Linked DNA regions of Homo sapiens. The protein of the gene in region 1 purifies or fractionates together with the protein of each later gene. This does not show direct contact. Each region holds a gene or a part of one and is shown on either strand. Other genes may lie near its edges.

Region 1 (4,330 bases):
AGGACTGTATTTATTATTCTTACCATTTCATCCTCAAATCCTGTTGCAGTACCTGGCACATAGTAGGCACTTTGTAAAAGTCTGCTGAATGAATAAACAGAGGAAATGAACAACTGAAGGGCAGAGGTCATAGTAACTTGCCCAGGGTCAAGATGGCAAGACTGAGACTATAGCCAGGTTTGCTAATTTCCAGTCGAGATCACCAGCCTTCTGAATAAATATCTTGTCCTAAATTTTGTTCTAAATCATTGGAACCAAAGCAACGTCACAACTCAAGTCCAATTTCTCGGCCTACCATTTTCTACAGATGGCATTTATTCAGCAAGGGAATGTTGTAGGTATAGTAATTTATCTTTTTTCCATGAAACATGTGTTATCTTCTTGCTCTATTTTGAAGAGATATTATGATAAATGATGCCACTATTTAAAACTTGTAAAGCTTCTTGAGGTTCTCAGAAAAAAGTACAAGGTATAGGTCAAAAAGAGTAATTTTGTCTCTCACAAAAGAATTTTCTGTTCAAAAAATGCTGTTAACTTGAAAAAGTCATATCTCCAAAAGAACGTTCTAATAGGTGGGATAATCATCATCATATTTCCAGCTATAATCCATCATATTTCCAGGTGTATCCCTTCCCTTAAAAGTAAAAAAGGAGAAAATCACTTTGCTGTGTGGAAGTGCTTTGTGTGTTTTATAAAATCCACATAAAATGTTCGTGGTTCAAGGAGTGGCTGCCGCATTTCTAAGGCAAATAAGCTTATCCCTGAAGAAGCTTGAAGATCTGACTCTCAAGAATCTTTGTGTTCTGGATGAAAAAGGAATCATTATTTTTTAACTCCCCTGCTCAAGTCAGTGACTTCCACTGGCACCCAATCCATTGGTTATAAGTACCCATGAATTGCCTTGCCAATTATAGGCAGGATAACCTAGGAGGACCAACCAAAACCAAACTCCTGGTAAGCTTTATTAGCCTTTTCTACAATGTGTCTCAGTTTCTCTTTCACACCTTGGAGTGGAAGACAATCTCTACTCACACTGTTGTGGTATGTGTCTGTCTGTCTCAGATGTGTGTATAAGGTGTATTTCTCAGCTCGGTATCTGAAGTAATTTCTTTTTCTTTTCTTTTTTTTAAAGACTGCTGTCTTAAGGCTTAAAAGTAATTTAAGGTTTTGTTTTTTGTTATTTTAAGAGTTGCAGTTTCTTTGGAGACAACAAAGTACTTTTTTTCCAAAGATGAAAAAGGCATATTCAGACTTTCTATGTTATGTTCCATAATTGTTTTGCTTATCACTGTATAACATTCTCATTATCATGGGCTACTTTAAGCTAATCAGTTGCATTTTGGGGTCCTCATTTAGAAGTCAATCTGGAAAAAAGATGGCTGTAAAACTTAGATAAACCAGTATGCTATTTCTCCTTCCTTGTCTGCCTTTACAGATGTTTCCTCTTTCTCTCTCTCTTCCCTGACTATCTCTCTCAATGATCATTGACAGCTCCCGCATCCCCTCTTTCACTCAGCTTCACTCCACCATGACCAGAGCACCTCTCCTGCTACTATGTGTTGCCCTGGTGCTGCTTGGGCATGTGAATGGAGCCACAGTAAGAAATGAGGACAAATGGAAGCCACTCAACAACCCCAGAAACAGAGATCTGGTAAGAACACACTTGGGGCCTGGGTTTCAGGATAGAACTAATGCCTCTTTGGATTTACGCACACAGCATTCTGTTTTCCAGAACGTAGTGGAAAGGGGGCTACCAAGGGTTGAGAAAATTCTCCAACAGGATTGGACCAGAGTTTTACTACCCTAGTGGTTGGCAACCTATTGTTTCTCTGGCCAGTTTACATTTGTTTCTGTAAAGAGAAACAAATTTATATTTAGAAACAATCTTATACACACATAGTACAATTCATTTGTAACTGATCTTATATACACATTGACTTTGTAGCCTTGATTTCTAATACATATAAAAAATAAAGAGTGTAACAGGGAATTGCTCGTGCATAGCTTAGATTGAACTGATGATAAAACAAGTTATCATATAACTAGAGATTGCCAAGCTCAGCTGCAAAAATTGAAAGTTGACCCTGCATGGGTATCAATTTACTGGACATATTTTCAACATATAGTTATCTATAAAATAGAATTCAAAAGATCAGTAAACATTCTCTTTAAAAAAAATGCCAAATACAATAAACATGTTGACATGACTATTTTGAAATATGGTTTTTCTAAAGTGAATGATGGGAAATATAACAACATAGGATTAAAATAAACTGAGATAAGAGACCAGCAGGATTTGTTTTCTGGTCACAGCTGCTGACGAAAACAGGATCTGGTCCAGACAGGATAAAGTGAAAACACTGGGTGAAACCAGCAGATGGCAACAAAAGTGGTCCCGACCTGCTCTCATTGCTCTTAGGATATGATCCTCCCCTCAGTGCCATGACAGTTTACAAATGTCATGGCAATTACCTGGAAGCTACCACTCCTTTCCATGGCAATGACCCAAAAGTTACCACCTCTTTCCTAGAAAGCTCTAAATAACTCCCTTCTGTTTGCATTAACCCATCCCTTAATTTGCATATATTCAAAAGTGGATAAAAACACAGTTGATAAGAGCCCATATGTTGTCAGCCCTAGGTGCACTACCTATGAATTAGCCTTGTTCTGGCAGGAGCAGTACCTTTCAATAAAAGATTGTTACCACAACCAGCCTGCCCTTAAATTCTTTTCTGGGCAAAGCCAAGAACCCTCCTGTGCTAAGCTCCAGTTTTGGGATTTGCCTGTCCTGCATCAAAGCAAGTAGCACTTCGCACATCTTCTGTGTTCATTTCCTAATGGAAATCTGAAAAGAAACTATTGCAGAAGGCAACAACAGAGATCTCATATTAAGGAAGAGGAGATACTGAGCTGCTTATTATGGAGTTCATTTTCACCTTTGACCTTAGTACTCAGAGATAGTTCACAATGAATCTTTCCACTGTGGTGCCGCTCCATAGTCTTCCTTCAATTTTCAGTAAGAATGGTGAATTATTTTGGTTAGGGTTGAAATGTCAGAAAGAAGGTACAGAGGAGGGGAGGAGAAGTAGCTGAAGCATGTACTTGTATTTCTAGATTTTGTATTTCCTGCCTCTTAGATTAGCCTTAAAGTCAATTCAGGGGAAAAATAGAGGGAAGAAAAACACCTTTATTTTTGGTGTTTCATTTATATCTGGCATTGACCATTTTCTTTCTCTCTTTAGTTTTTCAGAAGGCTTCAGGCATATTTTAAGGGCAGAGGTCTTGATCTTGGAACATTTCCAAATCCTTTCCCCACGAATGAAAATCCTAGACCTCTCTCTTTCCAGTCAGAACTTACTGCTTCTGCATCTGCAGATTATGAAGAGCAGAAAAACTCCTTTCACAATTATCTCAAAGGCTGAAAGTTTCTTCTGAGCTCAGGTAAAAGTTGGCCCTTTATTCTGGATCTGTCCAAACATACAAGTCAGCCATAAAGTAGATATTTTGAAAGTATTTATTTGAAAACATAATTTTATTTCCTCATAGAAATAAATGCTCAGTTCTGCTTATACTCATTACTATTAAGTATTTGGATTTGGTTCAGGTATTTTACAGTCTTGTTTTAAAAAGAAATGACAGTTTTTATTTTTTAAGCATAGTTATCCAGGCAGAGACATATTAAAATAATAGAATTATCTCTTAATAGGATTATTAAATTAATAACATGGCCACACTCTTACCTGTATCTTTTTCCAGACCAACTGATATAGCTAAGTTATGTGGAAAATCTACATAAAGAAATATGTCAAATTGAGCTGTTGGATTAGATGGGAATTAAAAGTTGAAAGTATGGTTCTTTGGGGGATAAAGTATTATGCATATATTTGAGCTTGAACTTCCTCACCTATAGGAAGAAAAGGTTGACTATTAGTAAGGATGGCATTTTTCTCATAGAAAAAAATTAAAAATTTATTAAGATTTGAATTTCATTACTTTTTTTGTTGTTGTTGAGGTAGAGTCTCACTGTGTCGCCCAGGCTGGAGTGCAATGGTGTGATCTTGGCTCACTGCACCCTCCACCTCCTGGGTTCAAAGGATTCTTCTGCCTCAGCCTCCTGAGTAGCTGGGATTACAGGTGCCTGCCACCACACTCAGATAATTTTTGTATTTTTTTTTTTTAGTAGAGACAGGGTTTCACCATATTGGCCAGGCTGGTCTCGAACTCCTGACCTCGTGATCCACCTGCCTCAGCCTCCCAAAGTGCTGGGATTACAGGCATGAGCCACCACACCCAGCGAATTTCATTACTCTTATTATTTAGCATTCCTATC
Region 2 (3,821 bases), on another chromosome or scaffold:
TATATTTTTTGAGACGGAGTCTCGCTCTGTCACGCAGGCTGGAATGCAGTGGCCTGATCTCGGCTCACTGCAAGCTCTGCCTCCTGGGTTCACGTGATTCTCCTGCCTCAGCCTCCTGAGTAGCTGGGACTACAGGCGCCCACCACCATGCCTGGCTAATTTTTTGTAGTTTTAGTAGAGACAGGGTTTCACCGTGTTAGCCAGGATGGTCTCCATCTGCTGACCTCGTGATCCACCCACCTCGGCCTCCCAAAGTTCTGGGATTACAGGCGTGAGCCATCGCACCCGGCAATTTTTTTATTTTTTATTTTTTTATTGAGATGGAGTCTCGCTCTGTTGCCCATACTGGAGTACAGTGGTGCGATCTCGGCTCACTGCAACCTCCATCTCCCGGGTTCAAGTGGTTCTCCTGCTTCAGCCTCCCGTGTAGCTTGGATTACAGGTGTGCGCCACTACGCCCATATAATTTTTGTATTTTTAGTAGAGACGGGGTTTCACCATGTTGGCCAAGCTGATCTTGAACTCCTGACCTCAAGTAATCTGCCTGCCTTGGCCTCCTCAAGTGCTGGGATTACAGGCGTGAGCCACCACGCCCGGCCGAGTGTTCTTTATTGGCTGTTCTTACAGACCCATGCTCCTTCCCCTCACTGTACTTACATCAGTTCACAGTGTCTTTGGTTGCTGTTTCTTGATTAATGTCTGTCTCCCTGATCAGAGTATCAGCTGTGCTCCAGTTGAATGATGAAGGTAAATCTTAAAAAGATAAAGTAAAGGACCATCTCTGTGAGCAGGGGTCACGCCCAAGTGTGCTCACCATCCAGAGTCTCTAGCACTTGGCACAGTGCTTGGAACAACTAGTTGCTGAATACATTTGTTGAATGACTAAATGGCTATTTACTTATTGAATGTTTAGGTAGAGGAAGAAGAACCCACTGGATACATTCGATTCGAAAAATTTCTTCCGGTGATGACAGAAATACTACTAGAAAGAAAGTAAGTAAGTAAATGCAATTGTTAAGGCAAAGTAATGGTCAGAATTATGAATCCATTCATTTCAGGACGCTTGGCTTTTTCACTTTGTGTGTTATACTCAAGCAGTGTGTCCTAAGGTGGCCTCCCTCTAACCTTTCAAGCTACTTCTGAACTGGCAGTTGGTACCTGCTTAGAAATATCAACCACACTAGTGTTATCCTAAGCAAAGCATAATTAGAGGGTAAATAAGCTATAAAGATCGTAAATCAACATTCTTAGTATCTTCTGTTTTGAATTATCAATGATAAATAAGAATCCTAATATTTTTCTAGCAAAAATATAGCATTAGCTTACCATAGTTGGTTCATCATAGAAGTCTTGTGCCCAGATAAATTGATGTCCAAAAAGCTAATAGATAACCTCAAACATGTCAGTGATTTTGCACTAAATATTTCCTGTGGGGCTGAGGTATTTTCAACTTTCATATCCAGAAATCCAAAAAGATTTCAATGAGGCAAGTATTATCATCCCAGTATGTTAGCAGCTTTTATTTTATTTTATTTTATTTTATTTTATTTTTGAGATGGACTTTCGCTTTTGTCACCCAGGCTGGAATGCAGTGGCACCATCTTGGCTCACTGCAACCTCCACCTCCTGGGTTCAAGCAATTCTCCTGCCTCAGCCTCCCGAGTAGCTGGGATTACAGGCACGTGCATGCCACCATGCCTGGCTAATTTTTGTATTTTTAGTAGAGACAGAGTTTCACTATGTTGGCCAGGCTGGTCTCGAACTCCTGACCTCAGATGATCTGCCCACCTCAGCCTCCCAAAGTGCTGGGATTACAGGCATGAGCCACCATACCCAGCCCTATTTTGTTTTATGTGGTCATTTATTACGGGGATCCCCAACCACCAGGCCAGGTACTGGTGCCAGTCCCTGGCCTGTTAGGACCCCTGGGCCACACAGCAGGAGGTGAGCAGCAAGAGAGTGAGCATTACTGCCCGAACTCCGCCTCCTGTCTGAGAAGCATTGGCATTAGATTATCATAGGAATGCGAACCCTATTGTGAACTGTGCGTGTTAGGGATCTAAGTTGCATGCTCCTTATGAGAATCTAATGCCTGATGATCTGAGGTGGAGCAGTTTCATCCCCAAACCATCCCTCCCCTCCCCTGGTCTGTGGAAGAATTGTCTTCCATGAAACTGGTCCCTGGTGCCAAAAGGGTTGGAGACTGCTGATTTATTATGTAAAGACTGCGGTAAATACCACGGCATTTACTCATTTTATTGCATAATTATAGATACAGACCAATTCCAGAAGATGTCCTTCTTCGAGCTTTTGAGGTATGTAAACTCCAGCTTATATGCATATACATATATATAAATACATTTATTTACATACACACATATATGAAAAATTTATCATGTAGAACTTATTCACCAAATGAAAAATATAATATCTATCTTTTCTTTTCCCCTAGGTTTTAGATTCAGCTAAACGTGGGTTTCTTACTAAGGACGAGCTGATCAAGTATATGACTGAAGAAGGTAAGTGTGATTTATTACTTATCACAATGACTTATGTGAGGAATTAATAATTTGTTAACAGTTATGCGAAAGTTATAGGGGATACTTTAAAATCAGTCATTCTGGTGAAAGTTATTTACTGTTCCTGCTATTTTGGCTTGGGGATGGTTTCTGTTCTGTGGGGGTTAAGAGGACAAAGAGTAGGGAAAGGGGAGATGGGTTGTTGTCTCGTAGAATTTTGTGAAGCACAGTGATTACTTCTATAATTTCAGGCATTGCATTCAGAGCATTTCCAGAATAAAAGATATGCCATCTGGAAAACATGAACTATCGATCACTGTAAATGAAGGCCTCTTCCTAGATTGAAGATTTGAATAAAGAATATAAAAATTCCGCCCCCCCCCCGGCGCCCCGGCTTTTTTTTTTTTGAGACGGATCCGGTCTTGCTCTGTCACCCAGGCTGGAGTGCAGTGGCGCGATCTTAGCTCACTGCAACCTCCGCCTCCTGGGTTCAAGTGATTCTCCTGCCTCAGCCTCCCGAGTAGCTGGGATTACAGGCACAGGCCACTGCGCCCAGCTAATTTTTTGTATTTTTAGTAGAGATGGGTTTCACCATGTTGGCCAGGCTGGTCTCGAACTTCTGACCTCAGGTGATCCACCCATCTTGGCTTCCCACAGTGCTGGTAAAAATTCCCTTTTAAAGAGCTTTTCTGTCAGTGAAGTTACAGATAATGTAGCCTCAATTGAATACTGAGGTCATTTTTAACACTAAAAATGTCCTTTTTTAATGTTAATTGAACCATATATATTTGTTTTGAACATGGCCCATCATACATATATGCATACACACACATAAAACCTGCACACTTATATATATATGCCAACATATTTCCTTTAGGAATTCTCTCTGCTAGGCTGATGTGTAAATTTGTTTACACTGAAGGTCAGTAGCCTGATGGACAGTCTCCTGAAACCATCCTCATATTGGTCCCCTTGCCTTCTCCCATACAAAGCTAGAGCTCTCTGGTTCACAGACTGGGTCCTGAATGACTCAGAGTTGCTAATCACTTGAGGCAGAATGAAAAGCGCAAGTGATTTTGAGTAGGGAAGACTAAGACTGCATCTACACGCACAACTGGTTTGACCATTCCAGCTTCATCCACCTTAAGGCGGAATACAGAGAGTGAGGGTCAGAATGGCAAGGCCGTCACAGCTGCCACCCAAGAACTCTGACGCCATTGTTAAAATTACCTTCGGGATTAATTCTGATGGGGATGTTACGACTTTCAAAGCATCAGCTTCTTCATCCTGAGGATTAGTCTA

What was found.
Region 2: the proteins of C2orf66 (region 1) and DRC8 purify together in Homo sapiens (affinity purification with mass spectrometry; one large-scale study listed by BioGRID and IntAct). This does not show direct contact.

Annotation. Positions count from the first base shown.
Region 1 is NC_000002.12:196,806,535-196,810,864, reverse strand, and holds the start of C2orf66 (uncharacterized protein C2orf66 precursor), read left to right. Parts: upstream 1-1,509; 5' UTR 1,510-1,516; coding exon of another isoform or gene 1,517-1,528; coding exon 1,529-1,651; intron 1,652-3,242; coding exon 3,243-3,422; 3' UTR 3,423-3,441; intron 3,442-4,330.
Region 2 is NC_000001.11:245,081,170-245,084,990, forward strand, and holds part of DRC8 (dynein regulatory complex protein 8), read left to right. Parts: intron 1-913; coding exon 914-993; exon of another isoform or gene 994-996; intron 997-2,272; coding exon 2,273-2,315; intron 2,316-2,452; coding exon 2,453-2,519; intron 2,520-2,770; coding exon of another isoform or gene 2,771-2,799; exon of another isoform or gene 2,800-3,821. UniProt on the Homo sapiens protein: Component of the nexin-dynein regulatory complex (N-DRC), a key regulator of ciliary/flagellar motility which maintains the alignment and integrity of the distal axoneme and regulates microtubule sliding in motile axonemes.